Regions from separate parts of the Homo sapiens genome. Here regions 2 and 3 are each linked to region 1. Evidence: fine-mapped expression QTL. A gene starts in region 1. Each other region holds a variant in brackets. All regions are shown on one strand. Distances are between the middles of the regions. Region 1 holds the start of INPP5A (inositol polyphosphate-5-phosphatase A). Region 2 overlaps ZNF511-PRAP1 (ZNF511-PRAP1 readthrough). Region 3 overlaps INPP5A (inositol polyphosphate-5-phosphatase A).

Region 1 (9,699 bases):
TTCCAGGGCTCTTCAACACCTGCTGACTGCAAGGTGCTCAGGTCCCTGCCAGCGAGCACTTGCCGAGCCCACTCTCACAGCCGTTCTGCAAACCCGGGTCTGGGCAGAGGGACAGGGCTGCCCGGGAGCTGACTAAGCAAAAAGGCAAACTGGCTCAGAACTGACTTAGCTGCGAACAAGCAGCAGGAAGGGCCACCAGGCAGATACCCGCCAGCGGGCTGTGTTCTCAGGACCAAACAGCAGCCTGACCATGCAAGGGTGGGACGCCACAGCTGGCAAGAATTCACCTCCTCAATTCCCTTCTCATAAAAATGGAAGGAACCAAAAGCCAGAAACCTCACTTGTCAAAAAACCAGCCACATCAAAGCAAAACAATTAAATATGGACCCCTGGTCACCTCTTTCCAAGCAAACCAGTAGTGACAGCAGGAGTCCAATCCAGGAATTAAAGACCAGCTGCAGGGCTCACCGAGGGTGATCTGGCAGTCTGCATAAGCCTGGGAAAGTCCCAGGCACCCCAGCCACCTGGCCAGAGACAGGGGTGCCCATGACAGTATGGGGAGGGAGGACTGGGCTGAGGAGGCCTTTTCACAGGTTGACTAGGTCAACACTATTTCCATAATACTACAAAATGACTCCTCTTTCCATTCTCACTGTCTCCTAGGGAAGAACGGCCAACACCTGAGGGGGTGCCTGTGATGTGGGATGATGTAATCGCTCTGCCAGCTAGTGCAGTGAGCTATGTATTCTCATGCAGTCTCAGCTCCCAATATGAGAAATATTGGTAGTTATAACCAACATAAACAAGAACTCTTTCGGGTCCTCCATAATTTCTAGGAAAGTGAGGGATAAGGGCTTGGGGACCGGTACACTGTAAGGCATTTACCGCAACACTGTCTGCACAGGGTCAGACACAACCCCAGTGGGGACAGCCCCGCAGCCCGCAGCATGGCCAATCTGGGGTCACAAAGATGGAGTAGTGATGAGCAAACAGGGGCTGCTGAGTGAGATTCCGTGTGGATCCCAGGATGCTACAAACCACAGCTGAAGTGGATGCACGCAGCGTTTTGAGAGGGGTGACCTCTGGACCAGGGACAGTGGCTCACACCTGTAATCCCAGCACTTTGGGAAGCCGAGGCAGGTGGATTGCTTGGGCCCAGGAGTTCCAGACCAGCCCGGACAACACGGCGAAACCTGGTCTCTACAAAAATTAGCTAGGCATGGTGGCATGTGCCTGTGGTCCCAGCTACTTAGGATGCTGAGGTTCACCTGAGTCAGGGCGGTCGAGGCTGCAGTGAGTTGTGACCGCACCACTACAGCACTCTAGCCTGGGCGACAGAATGAGACCCTGTCTAAAACAAAAACAAGAGGGGGAGGAGGAGGGGCCTTAAGAGGGGAGACTTTCAAAACTGCAAAAGCAAAAGCAAACCACCTATCACTTGTGCACAAAAGGAAAACAGAGTCCGCCACAGTCCGGGATATCTGCTTCAGATTCAAACACCTTCCTCCTCGGAACTGTGACCGGCTCCAGCACTGGTCACAGACGAGCTTGGCTTCCAACACGGTGAGACTGGGCGAGAAAGATTCCTTCACAGCCTGAGCACTGCCTGCAGGGTGCGTTCGTCAGCACGGGACGGGCTGCACAAAGGCAAACAGAATCTCAAAGCAGGTCCCCTGAAATCCAGGACAAACCAAGAAACCAAAACTTCCTTCACTCATGAATTTCCTTCCACCGGCCAGGCTTCTGGCCCACAAGTACCACACCCCAAACCTCAACCAAGGAAGGGGGCCTGGGAATGTGAGTGCCTGGCTGGTTTCCACTGAAGGAGACTGGGTCTGGCCCCCGGGGACTGAGCTGCACACATTAAGAAATCTTCAGACACGGACAGATAAGTTTCCACTCAGCCCTGAAATCACAATGCACCTTTCAGAATTAACCTATGTACTGTTGACCTAAACAAATGTTCCTTCTAAACATAAACATAATGCAAAATTCCACATAGCCTTTAAGAAAAATGAAAATTCAGAGAGAATAGGTTGCTAAACAAAAGTGAATTAAGTTACCCAATTTAATATCAACAGAGATAAATACGTGTATACAATTGAAACACAACAAAAATGCTAGAACTCAGAATCAAAGATTACTGGAAAGAATGTCTGCACAGTAAAACTCGTTTCCCTTTGAGACTAAAATGCCCCAGCAAGCTTAATGCTCCTGACATTTCTGAGGCTTTGAAGCCGCAGCTAACGGATCTGAATCATCTGAACAAAACCATGCTATAGTGACATGTTACTGGAAAGCCTAGAATAGAACGCCAAATATACAGACACACACCCATGCCAGGCACTTTTGTAGAAAATGATCAAACATAAACCTAGATGAAGTTGTTAATAATAAAGTGTGAGGAAAACCAGTTCCTCCCCAGCAGGTCAGTATAATACATGGGCACCTGGAAGTTAAAATAAGAAAAACAGAAAAACAGCGCCTTTTGTTAATAAAAACCAAACCTAGCCTGTGCATGAACTGAGCTTCATCAAACACTTCACCCATGCTTGCTGCCAGCAAAGACACAAGACCTCCTCCTGAAATGGAAACCACGCGTGCATCAGTGGCACACATCCGTCATAAAGCTGGTGCGGTGCCCCACTGTTCACCTAGGGAGGGAGGGAGGGAGGGAGGGAGCGTCCGTGGCTCCACGGCCTCCATCTGGGCCACTTGGAGCCTCACTCTGCTTTATTTGGGTTGGCAGCAGGAGTACCAACAGCAGGGTGGCACCGTGGCTGAAACGCCAAACTAGGTCAGACCGGCCTGCCTCTGGGGAGCTCCCAGTGCGCCCTGGGCCTCAGCTCCCTGGTCTCTCCAGAGATGGGGGCACCCTGGGATCCTGGGTGGGAATGAGGCTTGGGTGGGAGGGGCCCTAGAAGGTAAAGGCCATAGGCAGTCAGCATCCCCTTTCTGGCCCTGAAGAGCTTCTCAGCATCTTTTTCTTCAATAAACAAGAAATATAAAGTCCTACAGTGCTTTACAGACTTCCCTTATTTACGAACTAAAGAGATACTAAGTGGCAGGGTTAAATGGGGGCACCCTACCCTCTGGCCCTGCAGGGACAGACAGACAGTGAGGCCGGCACCCAGGCATCCAGGAGCTGGGGCTGACAGCCAGAGTGGAGGGCCTAGGCTCAGAGGACAGGGGCCAGGGGTGGGAGTCAAGGGTTAGGGTTTGGGAATTCTGCAGGCTCAAGGCCCAGGCTTTAAGACCAGGATTCAGGATTCAGGATTCAGGGGCAGGAGCTTGTTGGAGGAAGGGGCCAAGGATGGGATCTAGGAACCAGAGTTAGGGGCAGGGTCCAGAATTGGGTTTGGGGCCTGATTCTGGAACCAGGGTTCCAGGTTCAGGGGTCAAGGACAAGTGTTCAGGGCCATAAGCTGGGGCCTGAGGTTGAAATTCAGGGTTCAGAGTCAGGCTAGATTGGCTTTAGAGGCAAAGGGCCACAGTATGAAGGCTGGGATTCTAGGGCTAGAATTCAGTGATTGGGGAACAGGGACAGGAGGTTGGGGCCACAGCCCTGTGTCAGAAGTTCCTGGGTTAGGGTTTGTGGTTATGTTTCAGGGTTTGGGGTCCAGGGCTCAGGGACCAGAGACAGACGTTTGAGAGCAGGTTCTGTAACCAGAGTTCTGCAGTCAGGATTTGTGGTTCCAGTGACCATGGACCTGGGGTTCAGGGCCAGGGTTGGGGATGGGCATTCCAGGGCCAGGGTTCTGAGGATTCGGAAATCAGGGCTGGGGCTGGGTTTGGTGCGCACAGACCCGGTTTCTGGGGTTTGGGTTCCAGGAACTGTTAACAGGGGTTCTGACAGGGTTTTAATATTGGAGTTTCGAGGTCAGGATTTGCAGACAGGAGTTCAGAGGCAGGGTCCCAGGGTCAACGGTCAGCTGCTGGAGTCTGGAGGATGGGGTTCGGGGATTCAGGGCCCAGGTCTTCAGGTCTCGGGCTTGGGGATCAAGACAGGGGTCTGGGCTCCCAGACTTGGGAATCAGGACAGGAGTCTGGGGTCCCGGGTACAGGGATCAGAGTCTGGGGCCTCTGGGTCTGGAGGTTCACGGTCCAGGGTCCAAGGCTTGCAGTTCGGGACCCCGGGGTCAGGGTCGGGGGTTCCGGGCTTGGGGCCTGCCGCCGGCACGGGGGACTTACGTCGTCGAAGAGCGAGCCCACGTTGGCCGTGACCAGCAGCACCGCGGTGCCCGGGGCGGCCGCCTTCCCCGCCATGGTGCCCGGGCGGCGCGGGCGCTGGGCTGGGCGGCGGCGGCGGCGGCCGCTTCCTCCGGGACCGGCCGGCCGGGGTCTTCGCGGGGCCGCGGGGCGTCAGCTGCGCCGGGGGGCGGCCCCGGGGCGCATCGCGGGCTCGGCGGGTCGGCCGGGCCTGGCCGGGGCTCCGGCCTCGCGCTCGCTCGCTCGCTCGCTGCTCCGCGGCCCCGCGCCCGTCGCTCGCCGCCGCGCCTCACAGCGGCCCGCGCGCAGCCATTAGATCCGCTGGGAAAGTTCCCGCAGCCGCCGCCGACTCAGGCTGAGGGCAAGTCCCGCCCCGCGGAGCCGAGCCCGGGGCGGGGCCTGGGCGGGGCGGAGCCTGACTCGGGGTGGGGCCTGTGCGGGGTGGAGCCGGGCCTGGGGCGGAGCCTTGCTGGGGGCGGAGCCTTGAGGTGCGGAGCCTGAGTTGGGCCTAGATCTGAACAGAGTGGGGCGGGGCCTGCGGGGGGCGTGGCTTGTGCGGGACTTGGTGTCCTTGTGGAGGCGGGGCCTGCCCCGGGGCGGGGCCTCCTTTCGGGGCGGGGCCTACGCGGGGCGCTCTTGCGACCGGCGGCCTAGTACTGGTCGCTCCCGGAGGGCGCTCCTGTCAGTCAGGCCCGCAAGAACGCCGCGCCCCCGCCCCGCCCCCCGCGCCGCGGCTGCGCACAGACTCCGCCCTTCGCACTTCTATGACGTCACGGCCCTGCTCCGGCGGCGCCTCTTAAAGGGGCCCTGGGTTCCGGGCGCCGGCGGCGGGTGCGCTCTCTTGCGGCTCTGAGGGGATGTTCCAGCCCCCGCGCGGCCGCAGTCGTCCAGCCGCGTGCCGGGCGTGCGGGGGAGGGGAGCCCACCGGGGCGGCGGCAGTCGCGCCTGCAGGGGCCGGGCCACGCGCGCCCGGCTCTCCGCGCAGACGGAGCGTGGACCGTGCAGCTTCCCGGCGCGTCCACCCGGCTCCCTGGCCGCGACCTCACTCACGAGGAGCGGCTGCGGCCCAGAGAAGACGGAGGGGAGGCGGCGTGAGGCCAGGCGCATCCTGACGTCGCGGAGGGCTCCGGCCCGGGCCAGGCTGGGTCTCAGCGCGGGGCGTGCAGGGAACCCTCGCAGGGACGAAGGGGGCTCCAGGGGAGGGGGCTGGTGCGGGCCCAGGAGCGCAGAGCACGGAGGAGCAGCCGGCTCGGCGCGGGCCCCGGGGCAGCGATGCTGATCCTGGCCGCCGGAGGGGCCAGAGCATGGGCTGGACCCTGGGTCTGAGGCCGCGGGGACACAGCCGCCGTGAACCGGGACATGCCTGTAGATGGAGGAGGAGAACCACATTTGTCATCTTAAAGCTTCCAGTAGCTACATTTTTTAAAGGTAACAAGTAATAGCCAAAGTTAACAATACGTTTTACTTAACCCAATAGATAGATACATCATTCAACATGTAACCAGAATTTAACAACCTCAGTGAGATTCCTTCACAGGAAGGCTTTGCACGGGCACCTGCCTCTTGGCAGCAGCTCACAAGGCCGCTTCCAGTGCTCAGCAGCCCTGTGTGGCCAGTGGCCACCATGCGGAGCAGGCACTCCGGAGGATTTTGTGGACACAGATTTAGGGGCGGTCAGGGCCTGGCAATGGGCTCTAGCGAGGCTAGCCTCCAGCTTCTGAGTAAACCGCCAAGGCAATGCCCAATGACATCAAAAGGGGCTTGTTCTGTTCTAGGAAGACACCTGCTGCCAGGGCGGGGCGGCAGGAATGGTGCTGCAGGCTCGGGCCCCAGGCCTGTGCTGAGGCCGCATCACTGGCTTGTGTTAACACCCCCAGGGTTCCTCCTTACGGCCACCGCTGAGCAGGACTCCAGCAAAATCCATTTGATGTATAAACCAATGTCTACTTTAGTCAGTAGGTGCCTGCTACAGACTGAATTCCGCCCGCCCCACCCCACCCCACCCCGCAAATTCATGGGTTGAAGCCCTAACCTCCAATGTGACTGTATTCGGAGGTGGGCTAGCGGGGGTAATTAATGTTAAGTCGTGCAGTAGGGCTGGTGTTTAATGTTAAGTCGTGCAATAGGGCTAGTGTTTAATAGAAAGGGCTCAGTGCTGTCCCCACCCTTACATGTGCAAAAGAAGTGGCAGTGTGAGTGCACAGTGGGAAGCTTCACCCCAGCCAGCCACAAACCCTGCACCAGAAATCCAACGCTGCTGGAACTTGATCTTGGATTTCCAGCCCCCAGAACTGTGAGAAGTAAAAGTCTTGTTTCAGCCTCCCAGCCTGTGATATTTCGCTACAGCAGCTGAAGCTGACTGATGTAGTCGCTTATTTTTCTTTTTAACAAAATCAGCACATGCTAAGGGTACCCTTAGTAGAAACCAAATGTGGGGGTGTCACTGATCCCTGGAACGTGCTTTCTGAGAAGGGACATTGCCTCCTCACTTCTCCCCGCAGGCTGTGCCCTCACACCCGGCTGAGGCAGCGTCCCCCACCCCTTGTGCCCTCCCTGCTCCCCCCTCCTCCTCTCCTCGCCAGCCAGCTCCTGCCATGCCTGGACGTTGGCCTCTGCCCTTCCTCCAGGCAGCCACCTCCTCTTTCCCATGCACCCCTCACCCACCACAGGTTCAGCCCCTCACAGTTCTCCTGCCTCCTATATTCCGTGCTCATTACCAGAACCTCCAGAACCCAAGGGGGTGCGGCCTGGACCTCCCACTTCTGCATCCACGGCCCTGGGCATAGCCTGGATGTTCTCATCACCAATGACCACACCAAGGCCGAATCCAGGCACCTTGCCCTCCCCACCACCTCCTCTCCTTTGGTTTCACTTCCGTGGGACCTCATGGAAACCTACAGCCCATGCTGCTCCCATGCCTTCGTTAGCCACCGCCACACGTGCACACCCACACAGAAACACATGCACACGCATGCACTTGCACGCACACACATCTGCACATGCGCATGCACGAACATGCACACGTGCACACATGACCACGCATGTGCACACCTCTTCTTCCTGCCTTACTCTGCTTCTCTCTGAGGGTAGAATCACTTTGTGTACCCACTCCCTCCCCTCTCCCTGCCCCCCAGCACTCACCCAGCTGGCCCCCAGGACTGATTTACTTGCTTACAGTGAACCTGCGCCCAAATTAGAGAAAACTAAATTGGGGGAAAAACTAGACAACACCTTATTTCCATGCCCCTGGCATCTCCCAGGTCTCAGGCACACCCACGTTGAGCACTAGGCCTCCTGGCTCTGCGCATGTGCACTCCACCACTCCAAGAGGCCACTGCAGCCTTCCCCTTCTCTAACCACCAACTACGCTCCCTGGAGGAAACGTTTGCCCTTTGTTGAGGAAGGATTTGCAGTCTGGGATTTTCCCACTGTCACCCTAAATAACAGAGAGAGGCTCTCTAAAAGAAAATGAGATTTACTCGGGAACATTCATTGCAATAGAATATGTGTGCCATCGTAAATTGGGTGTGGGTCAAGGAAGGTAAAGGAAGACAAAGATTTTCAAAGGAAACAGGAGGATTACATCATTGTTTTGAATCAATGATCCTTGGCTACAAGGATCTCCAGGAAGGATGGTGCCAGTCTGAGGCTGGACAGGCAGCTACTGGGCAGATGTCTTCCCAGAAGTGTTTGTGTGTGTAAGTTGTGATGGTCTTTGTGCACGGCTGTGATTTTTGCAGTCTTTTGTGATTGTTCTTGCTATCAAGCATGTCTGCATAAGAACCCTCCCTTCATGCCCTTCCACAGTCTATATGTCAGGGTTTTTAATACCAGTGACTCCATTTGGATTCTGACTGTGATCACGCCACTAAGTCAACACATCCAGCATCTGGTGTCTGTCCTGCACATCCTCCATGCTGCTACATGGAATGAGGTGCCTGTCCCCGCCCAAGGCCACCCCCTCCTGGGTCACGTCGGCAGTTCACAAGCATGCTGCGGTCTCTCAGATCTCTGGAAGCCTCCAGCCTGTGCCCCTCCATTTTCCTCCCCCCTCTCTGCTCTCCTTGCTGCAAACCTTGTCCTAAAAGTCTGCCCATCTCTGCCCCGCATGCCAATGGACCACTCTTGTCCAGGCCCTCGAATTGTGCTTCTCATGCCCACACCCCATGGGGCATCCTAATTCAAGGGCCAGCCCCCCAGGCCTGATTGCAGCTGACCTTCCAATACGGTTGACCACTGGCTGCCTCTTGGAAGTGAGCCTTGCCCTGGCATCTGTGGCATTCCTGCTCTTCCCTCCCAACTGCGCTGACCACCCCCAGTCTCCTCTGCTGGCTCCCTTCATGCTCACCTGAGTTCTGGGGCCCTGGGGTCCTGGGTGTGCCCTTCCTGTGTTCACTTTCTCCCGGCTGACCTGGCTGGGCCCTCACCTTAGATCATATCAGCATGCCGACCGCTGCATGGGCATGGCAGACCTGTCACTGTGCCCGGGGCCTGGCTCTCCTATGTTCAGAAAGACATTGGCCACTTGTGTCACCTGTGTTAAAAGCCACACTCATGAAACCAGGTGAGAGGGAGGATGCCTCTCCCTTGTGTGCCCTTCTTCACCCTTGAAATATTGCCCCGTGTATTTGCTCCTTTGCCAAAATAATAATAATAACGAGTTTCCTAAAGACCTACTTACCTGGCTTAAGGAGATCCTGGGCCCACCTAGTCTGCAAGGAGCAGAGAGGGAGATGGGGAGCAGAGCCTGCCCGATTTTCCTCCTCCTACCATGGATGAATTCCTCAGCAGCTGCCAACCCTCTTCAACCTGGTCAGCCACTTGGCCCAAAGCTCTTGTTCTCCCAGGAGGGAAATTCGGCCCAAGACTTTTATTAGACAACAATATATTGCGAGCTTTTTAAAAAGGACAGCACTAAATATCACATTGTTACTTCGTTTAAGACAGTAACCAATTTGCTTATGGATTCATAGTTATCAGAGGCTTCCAGCCAGCATCCCTCATGCATGTCCACAGCAGATTCAGAAGGTGCCCTGCGGCATGTCTGCGTCTAGCACTGCGCAGCCGTAAAGTGCATTTCTAGCGTCTAATAATCATCGCTCTTCAGTACTCCTGCCGGGTGGGTCAGACTTACTCCATTGCATATAAAAACACTGAGGTTAAGTGACTCACTCAAGATAATTGTCTGCAGACAGAGCCTGGCTAGGTGCACAGTGAAAGGAATCCAGGGTCCTGTCCTCTTTGGGAGTGGCTAGACCTGGTCACTTTAGGCAGAGGTATTTTGCCATTAGTAAGCTCTGACGTCACCCAGAATTCATCTAGAAAGGGAGCTGTTGAATTATGGGGATACTTTCCTCATTAATCAGCTTAGTAACAGTTATCATTTTTCAGGAACCAATTGTGTGTGAGGGGTTTACATTTCCTATTTCTAATCCTCACAAAGGTCTTACAAGGTATGTATGTCTGTTTTACATATAAGGAAAGCAAGGC
Region 2 (9,699 bases), 780 kb before region 1:
GGCATCTGAGTGGGGAGTGGGGGGTGGGGCCTGAGGAGGGGTGAGCTCTGCCCCAGGGACGGGCATCTCCCATTCCCCTGGAGCCAGATGGGAGATGAGAAGGGCCCAGGGGCTCCTGGAGCTGCCGTAAGTCCCACCCTCCCCACCCGGCCTGGCAACTCCTTGCATTCAGAGGAAGTGACCTCTTTATCCGTATATACTTGAGTGTGGATTCCCTGCAAACAAGGGCGTCTTCTTACGGAACCTTCATGCAATGATCAAAATCAGGAATTTAGGTTTCCAGATCCACACAGCCCACGTGAGAGCCAACAGGATGGGGGTGGAAGGGCCTCTGGCTTCCCTGTGTGCGAGCATGGACGCACGTACAGAGAGGAGGGGGCATGGATTGTGTGTGTGAGAGTGCGTGTGTTAGTGTGAGTGTGTGAGGGTATGAGCACAGACGTACTGAGAGGAGGGAGTGTGGATGACGTGTGTGAGCGTGTGAACACGGACACACAGACAGGAGGGGGTGTGCATTGTGTGTTAGCATGTGTTAGTGTGAGCATGTGAGTATGTGAGCACGGACGCACAGAGAGGAGGGGGTGTGGATTGTGTGTGTGTGAGCGTATGAGTGTGTGAGTGTGAGCACAGATGCATATACAAAGAGAAGGGGTGTGGATTGTGTGTGTGTTAGTGTGAGCGTATGGACGCACATAGAGGAGGTGCATGGATTGTGTGTGTGAGCGTGTGAGTGTGAGCACAGATGCACAGAGAGGAGGGGCGTGGATTGTGTGAGTGTGAGCGTGTGTGAGCAGGGACGCACATACAGAGAGGAGGGGGAGTGGATCATCTGAGTGTGCACGTGTATGAGCATGAGAGGCAGAGAGGGGCAAGGGGGACAGTAGGAGTCAAGGAATGTGTCCACCGTGTTCCCAGCACTGGGCTTCAAATCTGGCTAATTCTTGGAGCTCACCCGTCACCTGCTCATCTACAGATGGGTAAACTGAGGCCCGCGGCAGAGGCCTTACCTTCGCGCAGGGTGGCTGGAACCGGGAGGATCTCTGGGGACCCCTGCCCTGCTCCCACACCTCCTCCCACAGGCTCCCAGCCGCCTGCCCCTGGCAATGCGAGGCCTGGATGCTGGGCCAGGACCACCACAACCGCCGACTCTGCACCGCTCCGCGCGGGGCCGCCCACATCCTCCAAGCGCGTCCCTCCACAGTGTCCGAACTGACACCCAGCGGAGAAGGGTGCTGACGCCTCCAGGAGGTGGCGCTGCAGCCAGACACGCCGACCTGGGCCGCGGGGAAAGGGGAGGACGGCGGTCGGTCGCCTGAGGTCTTCATCTCCGCACGCCCGGGGGTATCGACCGGCTGCCAGTGGAGCAGACACAGGCACAGCCCGTCCGTGTGAGGAGCGGGCGAAGGGGCCAGAGGATGAAGGGACCGGGGTTGGCGGCCCCGGCCTCCGTGTTTCCTGTGAAGGAGGACGGAGACCGGCACTGGCACCCACGGCTGCACTTCAGCTCGGAGTCGTCCATGCACAGCTGGGCCCTGGCCTCTCCACCTGTGCGTGTTCCCGGGGATGCGGCCATCTTTCCATCTCTGCGTCCGGGGGGAGGGGGGTGGGGGGTGTGGTCTTTCCATCTCTGTGTCTGGGGGGCAGGTGTAGTCTTTCCATCTCTGTGTCCTCGGGGGGTGGGGTGTGGTCTTTCCATCTCTGTGTCTGGGGGGGGGTGTGGTCTTTCCATCTCTGTGTCTGGGGGGGGGGGTGTGGTCTTTCCATCTCTGTGTCTGGGGGGGAGGTGTGGTCTTTCCATCTCTGTGTCTGGGGGGGGGGTGTGGTCTTTCCATCTCTGTGTCTGGGGGTGTGTGGTCTTTCCATCTCTGTGTCTGGGGGGGGTGTGTGGTCTTTCCATCTCTGTGTCTGGGGGTGTGTGGTCTTTCCATCTCTGTGTCTGGGGGGGGTGTGGTCTTTCCATCTCTGTGTCTGGGCGGGGTGTGTGGTCTTTCCATCTCTGTGTCTGGGGGGGGGTGTGGTCTTTCCATCTCTGTGTCTGGGGGGGGGTGTGGTCTTTCCATCTCTGTGTCTGGGGGGGGGGGTGTGGTCTTTCCATCTCTGTGTCTGGGGGGGAGGTGTGGTCTTTCCATCTCTGTGTCTGGGGGGGGGTGTGGTCTTTCCATCTCTGTGTCTGGGGGGGGTGTGGTCTTTCCATCTCTGTGTCTGGGGGGGGGGTGTGGTCTTTCCATCTCTGTGTCTGGGGGGGAGGTGTGGTCTTTCCATCTCTGTGTCTGGGGGGGGGGGGGTGTGTGGTCTTTCCATCTCTGTGTCTGGGGGTGTGTGGTCTTTCCATCTCTGTGTCTGGGCGGGGTGTGTGGTCTTTCCATCTCTGTGTCTGGGGGGGGGGGTGTGGTCTTTCCATCTCTGTGTCTGGGGGGGGGGGTGTGGTCTTTCCATCTCTGTGTCTGGGGGGGGGGGGTGTGGTCTTTCCATCTCTGTGTCTGGGGGGGAGGTGTGGTCTTTCCATCTCTGTGTCTGGGGGGGGTGTGTGGTCTTTCCATCTCTGTGTCTGGGGGGGGTGTGGTCTTTCCATCTCTGTGTGTGTGGGGGGTGTGGTCTTTCCATCTCTGTGTCCTGGGGGATGGGGGTTGTGGTCTTTCCATCTCTGTGTCCTGGGGGAGGGGGTGTGTGGTCTTTCCATCTCTGTGTCCTGGGGGGGTGTGGTCTTTCCATCTCTGTGTCCTGGGGGAGGGGGGGTGTGGTCTTTCCATCTCTGTGTCCTGGGGGGGTGAGGCCTTTCCATCTGTGTGTCTGGGGGGGGGTGTGGTCTTCCCATCTCTGTGTCCTGGGGGCGGTGCGGCCTTTCCATCTCTGTGTCCTGGGGGAGGGAGGGTGTGGTCTTTCCATCTCTGTGTCCTGGGGGGGTGAGGCCTTTCCATCTGTGTGTCTGGGGTGGGGTGCGGTCTTTCCATCTCTGTGTCCTTGGGAAGGGGGGGTGCAGTCTTTCCATCTCTGTGTGTGGCGGGGTGCGGTTTTTCCATCTCTGCGTCTGGGGGGGGTGTGGTCTTTCCATCTCTGCGTCTGGAGGGGGTGTGGTCTTTCCATCTCTGTGTCCTGGGGGAGGGGGGGTGCGGTCTTTCCATCTCTGTGTTTGGGGATACAGTCTTTCCATCTCTGTGTTGGTGGGGGGTGCAGTCTTTCCATCTCTTTGTCTGGGGTGGGTGTGGTCTTTCCATCTCTGTGTCCTGTTGTGGGGGGTGTGGTCTTTCCATCTCTCTGTCTGGGGGGGTGCGGTCTTTCCATCTCTGTGTCTTGCGGGGGTGGTCTTTCCATCTCTGTGTCTGGGGGGTGGGTGTGGTCTTTCCATCTCTGTGTCCTGTGGCAGGGTGCAGTCTTTCCATCTGTTTGTGTGTGTGTGTGTGTGTGGGGGGGGGGGGGGGGGGGGTGGTCTTTCCATCGCTGTGTCCTGGGGGGGTATGGTCTTTCCATCTCTGTGTCTTGGGGAGTGTGGTCTTTCCATCTCTGTGTCCAGGTCGGGGGGAGGGGTGGTGCGGCCTTCCTATCTCTGTGTCCTAAGCGGGGGTGTGGCTGTTCCATTCTGTGTTTGGTAGGGGGGTGCGACCTTTCCATCTCTGTGTCCAGGGAGGGGGGTGTGGCCTTTCCATCTCTATGTCTTCGGGGTGTGTGGCCTTTCCATCTCTATGTCTTGGGGGTGTGTGGCCTTTCCGTCTCTGTGTCTGGGGAGTGCAGTTGTTCCATCCTGTGCCTTGTCTGAGTCCTCTTGACAGCTGCAACCTGGAAGCCACTTCCAGGTGTGTCGGGAGTTGGTTCCTTCCAGTGGGTTCGTGGTCTTGCTGACTTCAAGAATGGAACTGCGGATCTTCGTGGTGAGTGTTACAGCTCTTAAAGATGGCATGGACCCAAAGAGTGAGCAGCAGCAAAAGTTATTGTGAACAGCAGAGGGTCACCACTGCTGGCTGGGTGGCGGAGGGGGTTGTGTGTGTGTGTTGGAAGGGGCAGCTTTTATTCCCTTATTTGTCCCTGCCCATGTCCCGCTGACTGGTCCATTTTACAGGGTGTTGATTGGTCCATTTTACAGTGTGCTGATTGGCCCATTTTAAACACTTCTAGCTAGCTACAGAGCATTGATTGGTGCATTTTTACAGAGCCCTGATTGGTGCATTTTACAAACCTCTAGCTAGCTACACAAAAGTTCTCCAAGTCCCCACTCGACCCAGGAAGTCCAGCTGGCTTCAGCTCTCACAGGTCTTGCAGCTGAAACACGAGCATCTCTGCCGGGCGTGGTGGCTCATGACTGTAATCCCAGCACTTTGGGAGGCTGAGGCAGGCAGATCACCTGAGGTCAGGAGTTCGAGACCAGCCTGGCCAACATAGTGAAACCCTGTATCTACTAAAAATACAAAAAGTAGCTGGGTACGATGTTGTGTGTCTGTAATTCCAGCTACTCAGGAGGCTGAGGCAGGAGAATCGCTTGAACTCAGGGGGCAGAGGTTGCAGTGAGCCAGGATGATGCCACTGCACTCCAGCCTGGGCAAGAAGAGCGAGCCTGCCTCAAAAAAAAAAAAAAAAAAAAAAAAAAAAAAAAAGAAGAAAGAAAGAAAAGAAACATGAGTATCTTCTTAGAAACGGATGCAGCCCACGTACAGTTATGATGCTGGCTTTGAAACAAAACAGTAACATTCTTCATACCGAAGTTTTACACTCCCCACTTGTCAGAAGAAAAACTGAGACAGAATAAACAAATCGCTTCCAGGCAGAGATGAAGCTAGGATTGGAAGCCAGGACCAACAGTCCCCGAAGGGTATAGAACAGTCCTGCTGTGAACAAAAGAGTTTTAGCAGAATCTGCTGTTGTGGAAAGGGCTAATACATCCTCGTGGAGCGCTGCCGCCAGGGCTGTGCTGCTGGCCTTGTGCAGGGAGCTCACGCAAGAGCCAGAGGATTCAACGGGCTGGGGCAGGATCTTCTCAGGGAGATGGAGAACCAGCAGTAAATCTGCGTGTTTGCATTTTTCTTGTGTTGTGCTTTCTCAAGCAGCCGACAGGCCCCGGGCGGCCCCACCACAGCCACCCTCGGCCAGTGCTCATCTCCCACCCCACACATGTGCGTGTGAAACCTCTCTTCACTGATGCACCCAGGCCTGGGCTTCAGGCTTTAGTGTCTTCCCTTGAGTGCTTGGGAACCTGCCTTCAGTTTTCAGAGCACGAAGCACTGTGCCATGTCAGCTCTGAACCTGAGGCCCTTGAGATTCCTTGACTCCAGGTTGCTGGAGAGCTCTCAGCATCATCCTGTGGAGCTGGGCAGCAGCTGCAGATGACCACCCACTGCCTCCAGCCAGACCCAGAGCCCCAAAAGGAGTGGGCTGTGAGGCAATGCCAGGGGCAGGGGGCCAGGAGCACACCAGTCACATGAAGGGACCAGCCCCACAGGGTCTGTGTGTTTTTCTCCCCGTGTGCAGAGACAAGAGATCGTAGAAATAAAGACGCAAGACAAAGAGATAAAAGACAGCTGGGCCCGGGGGACCACTACCACCAAGACGCGGAGACCGGTAGCGGCCCAGAATGCCAGGCTGCACTTTTATTGGATAGAAGACAAGGGGGCAGGGTAAAGAGTGTGAGTCATCTCCAATGATAGGTAAGGTCACGTGTGTCACGTGTCCACTGGACAGGGGGCCCTTCGTCATTTGGCAGCCAAGGCAGAGAGGCA[G/A]AGAGAGAGAGGCAGCTTACGCCATTACTTCTGCATATCAGAGACTTTTAGTACTTTCACTAATTTTGCTACTGCTATCTAAAGTGCAGAGCCAGGTGTACAGAATGGAACATGAAAGCGGACTAGGAGTGTGACCACTGAAGCACAGCATCACAGGGAGACGGTTAGGCCTCCAGATGGCTGCGGGCGGGCCTGACTGATATCAGGCCTTCCACAAGAGGTGGAGGAGTAGAGTCTTCTCTAAACTCCCCCAGGGAAAGGGAGACTCCCTCTCCCAGTCTGCTAAGTAGCAGGTGCTTTTCCTTTGCACTGACGTTACCACTAGACTACGGTCCGCTTGGCGACGGGCATCTTCCCAGACGCTGGCGTCACCGCTAGACCAAGGAGCCCTCTGGTGGCCCTGTCCGGGCATGACAGAAGGCTCACACTCTTGTCTTCTGGTCACTTCTCACTATGTCCCCTCAGCTCCTATTTCCGTATGGCCTGGTTTTTCCTAGGTTATGATTGTAGAGTGAGGATTATTATAATATTGGAATAAAGAATAATTACTACAAACTAATGATTAGTGATACATATATAATCATATCTATGACATATATCTAGTATAACTCCTGTTATTTTATATATTTGTTATACTGGAACAGCTCGTGCCCTCGTTCTCTTGCCTTGGCACCTGGGTGGCTTGCCGCCTATATCACATGCTGTGGGAACAGGGCCGCTGGAGGAAGACGTGGTCGGGAGTCTCTGAGCGCCCTAATTTTATCAAAACAGAGTGATTTCTCCAGGACACACTGCCCCCAGTGTATCTCTGCAATCCAATGCCAGCCCCAATCTCCTGGCCTGCATTTCCTGATGCAGGCTCTGTGGTCCCCGCTGGCACTAGTGATGGATCCTGCACCCTCTGGGGCAGCACCCCCCACTCCCCCAGCATCCCACACACCCCCAAGCACCCCATGCCCCCAGAGCCAGTGCCCCTCCCTGTGGGCATCAGATCCTACCCCCACCAGGTCTACTCCCTAAGTGGTGTGGCAAGGACAACTGGGTGTGGCTCCCAAAGCCAGGAGGTCCGGGACGAGGTGGAGTGCTGTATCCTACCCCATCACCCACCTCTGAGGGGTGCCAGGACTTTATAAATCTTCCTGAAAACTGAGGGTGGAAAACAGAATACCCATGGGTAACAATAACCACTCCGCACCTGACTCAACACAGAAATGAAGACTCAAGACCATCAGTGAAAAATACTTATTTCATGTGTTTAAAAATACATTCTTAGGGTGGGCCCTGCAGGAGGAGACAGGCCGTCCACATCTCCTTCCCAATAGTGTGTCCAGGTCGTTTCCAAAATCTGTGGGTCCCTCACAGCTTCTGATGACAGCTGCTAATGCCATTTGCTGAGGAACAAGGATGGGGAGGATGGCGAGGGCCTGGCCCCCAGGGCGGCCACACCAGAAGGTCGGAGAAAGGCCCAAGGCGGATGCCACGCCCAGCAGTGGTGACTGCCCCCCACTCCTTTTCTGAGTCTATCAGCATTGTTTGGTTTTCTTCTTGTTGCTTTTAAATCCTCGAGCGGCACCCTGACCAAAGCAGATGGTAGAGGGTATTCTGGGATGGAAGAAAGTTTCTATTAGATGCTGTATTTGCCAACCAACAACCCAGGTCATAACAGCACTTGTGTGTCTCCTTCTCATTCTCTTTCACTCTGGGAACATGCGGAATGCAGAGCCGGCCCTCCTGGGCCCTGGGGCAGCTCCCTTTCCACAGCCTGAGACCTAGTTCCTGTGGGGGGTCCCCGCCAGCCACCAACGCACACCCGCTGGGAAGAACTCCGCAGAGAGGGCGGCTCCTGCCAAGCCCTCTGGGGCTGAGACTTCCTGCTACCCCATGTCCATTCCATGAAAACCCCTACTGTCCCAGCCCCCCGGGGCTCATTCACAGGCCAAAGTCCAGGCATCTGTAAGGAGGGTGCAGGGAACATTAAGTTCATCGTTCCACCTGTTTGGAGTCTTTGGTGATGTTTTTCCCCACTTGTTCACCGTTTTTCCCAAATTAATTTAAAATCAACTTTAACTAGAAAGGCAGACGGCACAGGTGACGCTAGAAAGGCAGACAGTACAGGTCATGCTAGAAAGGCAGACGGCACAGGTCATGCTAGGAAGGCAGACGGCACAGGTGACGCTAGAAACGCAGACGGCACAGGTGACGCTAGAAACGCAGACGGCACAGGTGATGCTATTAAGGCAGACGCCTGGGTTGTGACTGAAGCAACTGCAAGTGAGACTCTTTCCATCCCACTCAGACAATGAGGAAAAGTGAGTGGTGCTTGGCATTCCTGCGCTTCAATGGCTCAAAAACAGAGTATGCGAGAGAAACTAAGTTATTCACAGGACCTGAGATATCTGGACTTTCTTCTCTGGCGGAAGCCGATTTTCTTACCCAGCGTTACCTTTCTGAATTCAGTATGAGAAGAGCTGCGGCCCAGGTGCAGCCCAGAATCCTCAGCACCGAACACATGTTGAGAACGGGTTTCAGAAAGAGCTCAGACACTGACCTATGTCTGTAGATCCGCCTCTCACCTGCCGGTGCAGGGGAGGCTGCCACAGGCTCAGAGCAGATTTCCATGGCCTCCCCTTCTGACCGCTCTCCACTGTCCCCTGGGGCTTCTGCTGAGGCTGGGCTGCGGGGAGAGAGCAGTGAGTAACTGCCCTGCACGGCTCCCACAGCCCCTGTGTTCCCCAGAAATGAACATGCAAGAAAGAAACTGGATTTCCCTGTAAGTAGCATATTTTCTTACTATTTTGGCATAGTCTGATTTTATAGTGTGGTTTAAGATACTGGGAAAAGGAGAATGATTACAGCAAGGCCATTGTTTATATAATAGAGTCTGCATCTTATAAACTTAACTGTAACAATCATACTTTTTTTTGAAAATAGTATTTTTATGGTGCCAACGGTGCCACGGGTCTTTTTATGAGTGTGAGAAATTTGCTAAAGTTAACCAGAGACTATAAACTAGTCTCTTCCATAATACGAATGTCTTAATCCAGCATTGCACGGTTTTTCTCCTTAAAATGATCCCTCGGAAAGGAGACAATTACTTTACACGTAAGTCTTTGTAAAGCCTCCCACATTGCAGTGGGTTCTCCCAGTTCTTTTATTTTAAAGAGCAAATTACTACTTGAGAAAATGTAGAGTCTGAAAAACTCTGATCAATAAAATTGTAGATGATTATGAAAGTTCACCTCATCAGTTAAAAAAAGAAGAAATATAACACAATTTAAAAATTGTTCCGGCTGGACATGGTAGCTCATACCTACAATCTCAGCACTTTGGGAGGCTGAGGCAGATGGACGGCTTGAGCCCAGGAGTTCACGACCAGACTGGGCAACATAGCAAGACCCTGTCTCTACAAAAAATAGAAAATTTTGCCGAGTGCGGCGATGCGTGTTGGTAGTCCTAGCACTTTAGGAGGCTGAAGTGGGAGAATCGCTTGAGCCTGAGAAGTGGAGGTTGCAGTGAACCTACATCACACCACTACACTCCAGCCTGGGTGTCAGAGCAAGACCCTGTCTCAAAAAAAAAAAAAGATTGTTCCTGGAAGTATTTCCCAGAGTGCACTCTAGGCAGGAACATGTTAATCAACAGCTTTGTCATCAAGTTCATATGCGCACAACCAACCAGGACAAAAGGAAAGCCAGGGCTGCATGATGTGTGAGCACGGCCGACGGCTGCAGGAGGTACAGACACGGCCCCGAGGGGTGTGAGTGCGGATGACCACGGCCGACTGCTGCAGGAGGTACAGGCATGGCCCAGAGGGGTGTGAGTGCGGAGGCGCTGCGCCCGCTCATTCCCACACCCCCTCTGCTGCCTCCACCGGCACAGAGCTGGGCAGCCAGGGGCTCCCCTCCAGCCTCCCTTCGGCAGGGTGGCCGCTGGCACAACCACCTGTAGCTGTGTTGCCAGGGCTTCAGGTACCTGCAGGTGAACACCCCATTAG
Region 3 (9,699 bases), 140 kb before region 1:
GATCCCGCACTGGGGCTGCAGGTGGAGCTGCCTGCCAGTCCCGCGCTGTGCGCCCGCACTCCTCAAGCCCTTGGGTGGTCGATGGGACTGGGCGCCCTGGAGCAGGGGGCGGAGCTCGTCGGGGAGGCTCCGGCCGCACAGGAGCCCACGGAGCGGGTGGGAGGCTCAGGCATGGCGGGCTGCAGGTCCCGAGCCCTGCCCCTCGGGAAGGCAGCTAAGGCCCAGCGAGAAATTGAGTGCAGCGCCGGTGGGTGGGCACTGCTGGGGGACCCAGTACACCCTCCGCAGCTGCTGGCCCGGGTGCTAAGCCCCTCATTGCACAGGGCCGGCCGGCTGCTCGGAGTGCGGGGCCCGCCAAGCCCACGCCCACCCGGAAATCCAGCTGGCCCGCAAGCGCCACGCGCAGCCCCGGTTCCCGCTAGCGCCTCTCCCTCCACACCTCCCTACAAACTGAGGGAGTCGGCTCTGGCCTTGGCCAGCCCAGAAAGGGGCTCCCACAGTGCAGCGGTGGGCTGAAGGGCTCCTCCAGTGCCGCCAAAGTGGGAGCCCAGGCAGAGCAGGCGCCGAGAGCGAGCGAGGGCTGTGAGGACTGCCAGCACGCTGTCACCTCTCACTATCTTCTGCGCTTTTTGACAACAGCCATCCTAATGGGTATAAGGTATTTTGCAAGTCCTTTTAAACTGACAAATGAAAATGGCAGTTTGGATCTGCATCTCCCTAAAGGTTCGTGGAGCTGGGCGCTTTTTCGTGTACTTATCGGCCGTCTCCACGCCGTCCTTGGAGGGAAGACGCCTATTCAAACCCCTTTCTGACTCAGGTTGGTTTTTGTTGTTGCTGTTGTTGAGTTTTCGGAGTTCTCTATATATTCTGGATAGTAATTCCTTATCAGATTTTTGATTTGCAAATATTTTCTCCCATTCCACGGTTGCCTTTTTACTCTGTTGATGTTGTCTTTGGCTGTACAAAGTGGTTGTGTTTTAATGCAGTCCAATTTGTCTCTTTTTTCTTTTGCTGCCTGTGCCTTTGGTGCTGCGTCTGAGAAATCATCGCCAAATCCAATGTTGTGAAGGTTCTGGCCCATGTTTTCTTCTAAAAGTTTTATAGTTTTAGGTCTTTGACTCATTTTGGGTTAACTTTGTACACAATGTAATGTGAGGGGCCAACTTCATTCTTCTGCGTGTGGGTATCAGCGTCCCAGCACCACTGGCTGGAGGCTGTCCTCTCCCATGGAATGCTCTTGCACCCTTGTCAGAGACCACCTGGCTGCCCAGGCAGGGTGCCTCCTGGCTGTCCCCTCTGCTCCATGGTCTGTGTGTCTGGCGCATCTCTTTTTAAGATTATTGGCAATTTAAGTTTCTTCTGTGAACTCTTTGTATCCTTTGCCCATTTTCCTGTCTCATTTTGTAGATTTTTAATTTTTAAATATAATCCAGAATTATTTATTTGTCTCATCACCTTCTCACGCCCTCCACCCTCCTCCAAACTCTGTTACTTCTAGGCTACGGGACTCCACATTCTCCTTCCCTGGATCTCCTCCTCCTACTTGGGAATAACAGCACTCTGGATCTGCTCAGGGTACCCTACGAGCCCTTCTCCTCCACCTCCTCCTCCCGCTGGGGTGGCCCGTCTGTCCCATCTTCCAGCGGGCAGCTCTTGTGTGTACAGCATGGAGCCTCCTAAAGGCCAGCCTCCTGGCCCGGCGGCTGCACAGTCTCCACTTGGGTCTCCCGTGACAAGTCCGACCTTTCAGGACTGGAGACCTACTCCACCCTCACCCTCCTCCAGCTCCCACTGGAAACCACGGATCTCTCCAGATTCCTCCAGCATCTTGTCCATATGCCTCACCCAAACATCCCTTCCTTCCACAGGTTCTACGGATTACAGAACCCTGTCCATCTCTAGCCTTCCACGTCTCTGCACTGCTGCACACCCACCTCCCTCATCTCCCTGTGGGGCCCCCGCCTCCTCCACAGCTGTAGCCCCCTTGGTCTCTTCTCCACCGGGCACCAAGGTGGCCTTTTCCACATGCACCTCTGGGCCTGCCACTGCACTTCCTCCCAGCCACGTCCTGCACAGTGGCCACCCCAGCTGTCCTCTGGCCCTCACACACCCAGCTGACAGAGCTCCAGCCCCATTGGCCATCTGGGCCTGAGGAGGCTGCGCCCTTCTGTCAGGAGGGTACCTCTGCTGCCTCCCCTTTTCCAGCTTCTCACATGGACCCCCTGCTGCTTCAGGTCTCTGTGGAAATGCAGCCTCCTCCAAGCAGCCCTCTTGATTGGCTACTCTGGGCAGAGGCTTGGCAGTCCCAGTCCCCAGCCTTTCCTTCAAGGTGCTGCATATTCCAGCACTCACTGGTTTCCTCATCTAAATTCTTTCAGGGAAGGGAAGCCCCCTGAGGGCAGGCATGTGGCCTGGGCGCCTCTGAGTCCTCCACCACAATGCCCAGGTCACGGCAGGCAGGAATTCCACGGCTCCTGGGCAATGAGAGAGGCACCACACCCTCTGGGCGCCCGGCTGAGCAGCAGCAGCTCAGGACCGCTGGACAGAACCCTCAGCTCAGGTCTCAAAGCACAACCCAAGGCACAGGTTCACGGTGCTCCCGAGAAGCTGAACACACTTGCAAAAGTCACACATTTAACCCTATCACAAAGGCAAGTCCCAAGACACCTTGTTTTGAAACAATTTAACAGATTGAGTAATAAATCAAAGCAAAGTTATAATAACAGTCATTAGATTATAAACAATAATAAATGAAACAAAGCTTTTGTTTAAATCAATGTAGCGCTTCATTGATCTTTTCCTGTATAATGAACTCATGGGCGGCTGACCCAACTGGACAAGGCGGCGTCCTCACTACTGCCCACTTCCCCCAGTGCCACCCCCAGGCAGCATACGGGGGGCTGTGACCGTCCGCTCTCAGAGGAGCTCCGTGACCACCACAAAATGACAGCTGACTTATTTACAAAGCACTGACTTTCCAATTTCAGCTCCTGGGGCCAAACGGGATGACGGCACCAAGGTGTCCCCCTGTCTGGCCTCCTGCCGAGCCCCTCTCCCGGCTGGCTGCTGGCGGGAGAGATGCACACGTAATCTCATTCTGCCTCCTGTTCGACAGCTGACGCTAGAGGTTAATTAAATTGGTTGTCCATTGTATTCATCCACTTTACAAAGCTAATGATATTCTGTTCCTGAATTAAAGAGCATTTTATAAAGCGTGCCCCGTGGAAGCCGGCATTCTGCACGCGGGTTGCTGAACCCTGTCACGGCTCTTGGATGTAGTGTCCCCAATTAGGAGCCCAGGAAGGACCGGGCCTTCATCTGCCAGGGTGGAACACCAGTCATGCTGACACGAGGGTAAACACGCCACATACCAGCCGCTTAATCGCCCTCGCTGGCCACGATAAATTCCACCAGACGAGTGCGCCCGTTAACATTTCCGATTACCACGGTGAGGAGCAACTGAAATGGAACGAGATGGCCTGTAAAACAGCCTGCGGCAGGCTTCTCCAAAGGGGGTACATCTGAGGGCGGCAAGGTGACCAGCAGTCCTGGCTTCTCGCCTGCTACCAGCACTGGGCTCTCTGTCACACTGCGGGGGCAAAGTCATTGGCCGGTCTAAGGACACCCACCCTTGCTGAGAGAATTCAGTCACCACTCACATTCCACAAATATGCACCCGGCACTTTCTCCTTCCTCTGTGCCACATATGTTCTCAGACATGTGAGATACATGAGTGACCAGATGGCCAGAGCCCAAGACGGCAGCGTGGTGAGGGGGGCCATGACAGAGGAGCCCCAGTGGGGAGGTTCAGCTCTGCACCCAGGCAGCATCCACAGGACCTCCAAGACCAATGTGAGCTGGGATGGGCTCTGGAGAGACAGCGTCCAGCCATGGACCTGCAGAGGCTGAAACAGCTTCAGACACCTCAGGGAGGCATCAAAGGTGACTGAACCTAGGTCTACAGTTCAGGACAGGTGCCTGGGTGATGGTGGGGGTCACCATGTGAATACCTGTGGGTCTACAGTTCAGGACAGGTGCCTGGGTGATGGTGGGGGTCACCATGTGAATACCTGTGGGTCTACAGTTCAGGACAGGTGCCTGGGTGACGGTGGGGGTCACCATGTGAATACCTGTGGGTCTGCAGTTGAGGACAGATGCCTGGGTGACGGTGGGGGTCACCATGTGGATGGGCCTCAAAGCTGGGGAAGACTCAGCTTGCCAAGGAGGAGCTGGAGCCAGAGAAAAGGGCAGGGTCAAGCACTGGACTGAGGCTACTACTGTGGAGAGACAGGAGCAGGTGAGAGCCAGCAGTCAGTGGGGCAAGGAGCCACGGGGGAAACAGGAGGGGCCGGTCAGGGACTAGGACGGAACCTTGGGCAGGTGGCACCTTGGAGCAGAGTCAGGAGGAGGGAGCAGCCACAGGTGCCCAGGGCTGCCATCTCATCAGGGGCGCAGGGAGCGGAGCACTGGC[C/T]GGGACAGCAGTCTGTAGGCCAGCGGCGGTTTGGGCAGCCCTGTCCCACACAGTCACCTGCTTGTGTTCAGCCCATTATCATGGACCTTGCTTTTCAAAAGGGAAATCTCTATTGACTTTTGTCTGATGTAATATATTTCACGAGCTGATGCCAGACAAAAAGGAAAAGCAAGTAAATTCCCCATGCCTCTTTCACCCGGAGTGGAGGGAGACAGGTGGAAAGGTCCTGGCCCAGAACTCACGGTGTGCCAGACAACAGCAGCCTCGGCCACAGGGAGACGTGACGCCCCAGAGCCTTTCCGCAGGTCTCATGAAAAACGAGGCTGTGTGAGGAACCTAGTTTCCCTGTGGGTGCCTACCAGTCATTTTAAACCTGTATCACCTAGAGCTCTTCCTCTCAAAATGAGATTCATTTGCAACGCAGATGCTATTTTTTGAATAATAAATATTTCACAAATTGAAAATTTCAATAATGAACAAAGAAAAATATCAGTCTTAAAATAACTAGTTTTAATTATGAAATTTGTTATATTTTTCTACGTATAAATGATTATACAAGTAAATCAATAAACTTTTATGCCAATTAAATTATGTAAGGAGTTTGCATCCTAATTAAAATGGTTCTGACTCTTATCTTTTGTCTTCTAAAAATCATTAGCTTTTCAATTACATTTCATGTATACATGTTCTGGAGAAACTGGTTATGTGCATTATGGATATAGAATAATTAAAGTAAAATGCACTTTAAGAGATGGCCAACACTGAACACAAGCTGTTTACAAAATACCTTCTGCCAGTACAAAAGCTCAGGGCATATAAAACTCTACTCAAAAGCCTTAATTGAGTTTTAAATGTCCATTATATTAGGAAATTGCCATCTACTTCTGTTTCAAATAATTTACCTTAGTTCCCGGTCCCCAGAAATGCTAAAACAGCAGTATTCCAAGGGCACACGCTCCCTCCAGACCCTGATCGGGGTCCCAGTTCTCCGCGTGGGAATATCCCCGTGGGAATGTCCGTTACCCTCACTCTCCCGGGCACGGCAAGGCCCCTGGAACGCTCACTCCACACGCACCCACCCCCATGCTCAACCGCACTTCTCTCCGTGTTTTACACTGCAGGAGGTGCCTCGGTTTACACAACCAATGCCCATGGCCATTTGCCCGCTTCCCCCAACTGCCTTGAGTCTCATTCCTTTCTCCTCTCTGACTTCATATGAGATCATTTTCTCTCCGCTTGAAGAACATCCGTTAGTACTTACTGTTTTTCATTTGAGTTAAAATGTCTATTTCACCTTCAATCTTAGGAGATGTTTTGCCGGGTAAGACCCTATGCTGACATTTCCTCCAAGGACACGGAAGATGCGGCTGCACCGTCCCCTGCGGTTACCATTTCTGCAGGAACAGGAAGGTGGCCTGTCAGTGTGACTGCGGCACACCCCTATGCTCTCTATGGTTTTCTTGATTTGTTATAATCTGACTGGGTATGAGTTTTTATTTTTTTGATGCTGCTAGGGATTCACTGGGATTCCCAACTTTCTGGACTTTGGGTATGGAGGACTGAGGGGGTCCAGAAGAGGAGTAGGCTCTGCAACAGGTCCAGGCTGCTGTGCCAGCTGCTCTGACACTTGGGCCATATGACCCAGCAGATCCAATGGTGCTTGAGGTGTCAGTGGCAGATAAGGATGCTGTTTGGAGCCTTTGGCAGGTCCCCATAGGTGAATCACAGCGGAGGCCTCTAGGATTTTGGAGTGAGGCCCTGCCATCTTCTGCAGGTAACTACTCTCCTTTTGAGAGACAGCTCTTGGCCTGTTACTGGGCTTTGGTGGAAACTGAACGTTTGTCTATGGGTCATCAAGTCACCGTGTGACCTGAACTGCATGTCATGAACTGGGTGCTTTCTGACCCATCTAGCCATGAAGTGGGTCATGCACAGCAGCATTCCATCATCAAATGGAAGTGGCATGTATGTGATTGGGCTTGATTAAGTCCTGAAGGCACAAGTAAGTTACATGACGACGTGGCTCAAATGCCCATGGTCTCCACTCCCGCCACCCTCCCTTCTCTCCCCCAGCCTGCACCGATGGCCTCATGGGAAGTTCCCTATGATCAGCTGACAGAGGAAGAGAAGACCGGGGCCTGGTTCACAGATGGTTCTGCACGGTATGCAGGCACCACCCGAAAGTGGACAGCTGTAGCATGACAGCCCCTTTCTAGGACATTCCTGAAGGACAGCGGTGAAGGGAAATCTTCCCAGTGGGCAGAACTTCAAGCAGTGCACCCGCTTGTGCACTCTGCTTGGAAGGAGAAATGGCCAGATGTGTGATTATATACTGATTCATGGGCCGTAGCCAATGGTTTGGCTGGATGGTCAGGGACTTGGAAGAAGCATGATTGGAAAATTGTGACAAAGAAATCTGGGGAAGAGGTATGTGGACAGACCTCTCTGAGTGGTCAAAATTTGTGAAGATATTTGTATCGCATGTGAGTGCTCACCAATGGGTGACCTCAGCAGAGGAGCATTTAAATAATCAAGTGGACAGGATGACCCCTTCTGTGGATACCATTCAGCCTCTTTCCCAAGCCACCCCTGTCATTGTCCAATAGGCCCATGAACAAAGTGGCCATGATGGCAGGAATGGAGGGTACCCATGGGCTCGGCAACATGAGCTTCCGCTCACCAAGGCTGATCTGGCTACGGCCACTGCTGAGTGCCCAATTTGCCAGCAGCAGAGACCAACACTGAGTCCTTGATATGGCACCATTCCTTGGAGTGGTCAGCCAGCTACCTGGTGGCAGGTTGATTATATTGGACCTCTTCCATCATGGGAAGGGCAGAGGTTTGTCCTCACTGGAATAGACACTTACTTTAGATATGGGTTTGCCTATCCTGCATGCAATGCTTCTGTGAAGACTACCATCCATGGACTCACAGAATGCCTTGTCCACCATCATGGTGTTCCACACAGCATTGCCTCTGACCAAGGCACTCACTTTATGGCTAAAGAAGTGTGGCAGGGGGCTCATGCTCATGGAATTCACTGGTCTTACCATGTTCCCCATCATCCTGAAGCAGCTGGGTTGACAGAATGGTGGAATGGCCTTTTGAAGTCACAATTACAACACCAACTAGGTGGCAATACTTTGCAGGGCTGGGACAAAGTTCTCCAGAGGGCCATGGATGCTCTGAATCAGCGTCCAATATATGATACTGTTTCTCCCATAGCCAGGATTCACGGGTCCGGGAATCAAGGGTGGAAGTGGAAGTGGCACCACTCACCATCACCCCTAATGATCCACTAGCAAAAGTTTTGCTTCCTGTTCCTGCAACATTACGTTCTGCTGGCCTAGCGTTATTAGTTCCAGAGGGAAGAATGCTGCCACCGCGAGACCAAACAGCAATCCCACTGAACTGGAAGTTAAGATTGTCACCTGGATACTCTGGGCTCCTCCTACCTTTATGTCAATAGGCTAAGAAAGGAGTTACACTGTTGGGGTGATTGATCTGGTCTATCAAGGTGAAATCAGTCTACTACTCTGCAACGAAGCTAAGGAAGAGTATACATGGAATACAGGAGATCCATTAGGGCGTCCCATAGTATTACCATGCCTTGTGATTAAGGTCAACGGGAAACTACAACAGCCCAATCCAGGCAAGACTACAAGTGACCCAGACCCCTCAGGAATGAAGGTTTGGGACATTCCACCAGGAAAAAAACCACGACCCGCTGAGGTGATGCTGAAGGCAAAGGGAATACAGAATGGACAGTAGAAGAAGGCAGTCATCAATACCAGGGGAGTGGGGTGGGGCGTGGAAGGCGTGGGGTCCAACGCACATGTAACTGGAACCTAGAGGGAATGCAGAGGGGGAGTGGAAGTCGTTTTTGAAGAGATGAGAAATCACGTTTTTCCAAACTTAGGAAAGACCTTGTATTAGTTTGTTTTCACACTGCTGATAAATACATACCCGAGACTGAGGAATTTACAAAAGAAAGAGGTTTAATATGGACTTACAGTTCCACATGGCTGGTAAGGCCTCACAATCATGGCAGAAGGCAAGGAGGAGCAAGTCACATCTTATATGGATGGAAGCAGGCAAAGAAAGAGCTTGTGCAGGGAAACTCCTCTTTGTAAAACCATCAGATCTCATGAGACCCACCCACCACCATGAGAACACCATGGGAAAGACCTGCCCCCATGATCCCCTTGCCTCCCGCAGGGTCCCTCCCATAACATGTGGGAATTCAAGATGAGATTTGGGTGGGGACGCAGCCAAACCATATTATTCCATCCCGACCCCTCCCAGATCTCCTGTCCTCACATTTCAAAACCAATCGCCAACCCAAATATTATTTCATAAAGTTGACAATACTTAAATGCTGATATGAAGTGAATAAATCTTATGTCACATGATAAAGGAAAAGGAAATAAAATGAAGATATTTTCTTAGTACAAGTGTATACATGCACAAACATGTTTTTAGCAAAAGAATGTCACAATGCTCAATAAGAGCCACTTAACAAAACGTAGTTCTCTCCCTACATCCTTGGGAAAGGAACTACTGAATTTTGACCTCTAACGAAACCTGTCCTCAAGCTTTAAAACCTACAGTTTAGCTGAATATTGGACAACAGTCACCTCTAATCAATGCTGTCCACCCTGAGCACCACCCCCACCGTCACCCTGGCTGAAGCTGGCCTTTCCTGCGCTGTCCCCTTCTGAGAGCAGAGCAGGCTGGTTGAGAGTACAGGCTCTGAGGCCAGAACCAAGTTCAAATCCCACATTGGCCTCTTCTGGTTGGTCCCTGAACCTCTCTGTGCCTCAACATCTCTATCTGTGACACGGGGAAGACAAATAACAGTACCCACTTCATAGGGCTGCTCTGATCCCTGCATGGGTGGCACATGTAAGGCACATGAAACAGTATCAGGAAGCTCATGTGCCAACGGCTATTCCAGGAGGTGTTGGTGCTGCTTCCTGTCAGCACCTTCCCATGCTGGAGGAGCCGCAGAATACGGCCCCAACACATCCTTGGCTGATGATGGGATCAACAGGCATGGCAGGAAGGGCTGTGCCAGCCAAGAAGGTTGTGTCCTTCCAAAGCAAGGAGGTAGATACCGAAGCAGAAAGGGTGGAGTCAGAAGCAGGGAGGGCGGAGTCCAGAGCAGGGAGGGCCGAGTCCGAAGCAGGGAGGGCGGAGTCCGAAGCAGGGAGGGCGGAGTCCAGAGC

Evidence for each region. PIP is the estimated chance that this variant, and not a neighbour inherited with it, causes the effect. A credible set is the group of variants that fine-mapping cannot tell apart.
Region 2: its variant is the best candidate, but not a certain one, in a credible set for the expression of INPP5A in spinal cord (GTEx, PIP 0.75).
Region 3: its variant is the best candidate, but not a certain one, in a credible set for the expression of INPP5A in whole blood (INTERVAL, PIP 0.75).

Annotation. Positions count from the first base shown.
Region 1 is chr10:132,532,664-132,542,362 of GRCh38, reverse strand. INPP5A (inositol polyphosphate-5-phosphatase A) reads right to left here and starts at 4,576. Exons shown (of 16, transcript NM_005539.5): 1 at 4,192-4,576. The coding sequence starts at 4,266. LOC107984282 (a long non-coding RNA gene) reads left to right here and starts at 5,440. Exons shown (of 4, transcript NR_158224.1): 1 at 5,440-5,637. RefSeq lists enhancers at 490-619, 630-789, 550-1,084, 1,085-1,619, 3,626-3,675 and a silencer at 4,456-5,555.
Region 2 is chr10:133,310,396-133,320,094 of GRCh38, reverse strand. It overlaps ZNF511-PRAP1 (ZNF511-PRAP1 readthrough), which reads right to left. Exons shown (of 9, transcript NM_001396060.1): 5 at 8,254-8,379. ZNF511 (zinc finger protein 511) reads right to left here. Exons shown (of 6, transcript NM_145806.4): 5 at 8,254-8,379; 6 at 6,934-7,307. The coding sequence ends at 7,229. It also overlaps a transcript of TUBGCP2 not described here. Among named protein-coding and RNA genes, the nearest start is that of ZNF511-PRAP1, 6.3 kb to the right of the region's middle. RefSeq lists enhancers at 1,324-1,553, 5,251-5,752, 5,759-6,028. The variant G/A (reference allele first, on the strand shown) is at 5,706.
Region 3 is chr10:132,671,393-132,681,091 of GRCh38, reverse strand. All of the region lies in intron 4 of INPP5A (inositol polyphosphate-5-phosphatase A), which reads right to left. Among named protein-coding and RNA genes, the nearest start is that of NKX6-2, 110 kb to the left of the region's middle. The variant C/T (reference allele first, on the strand shown) is at 4,472.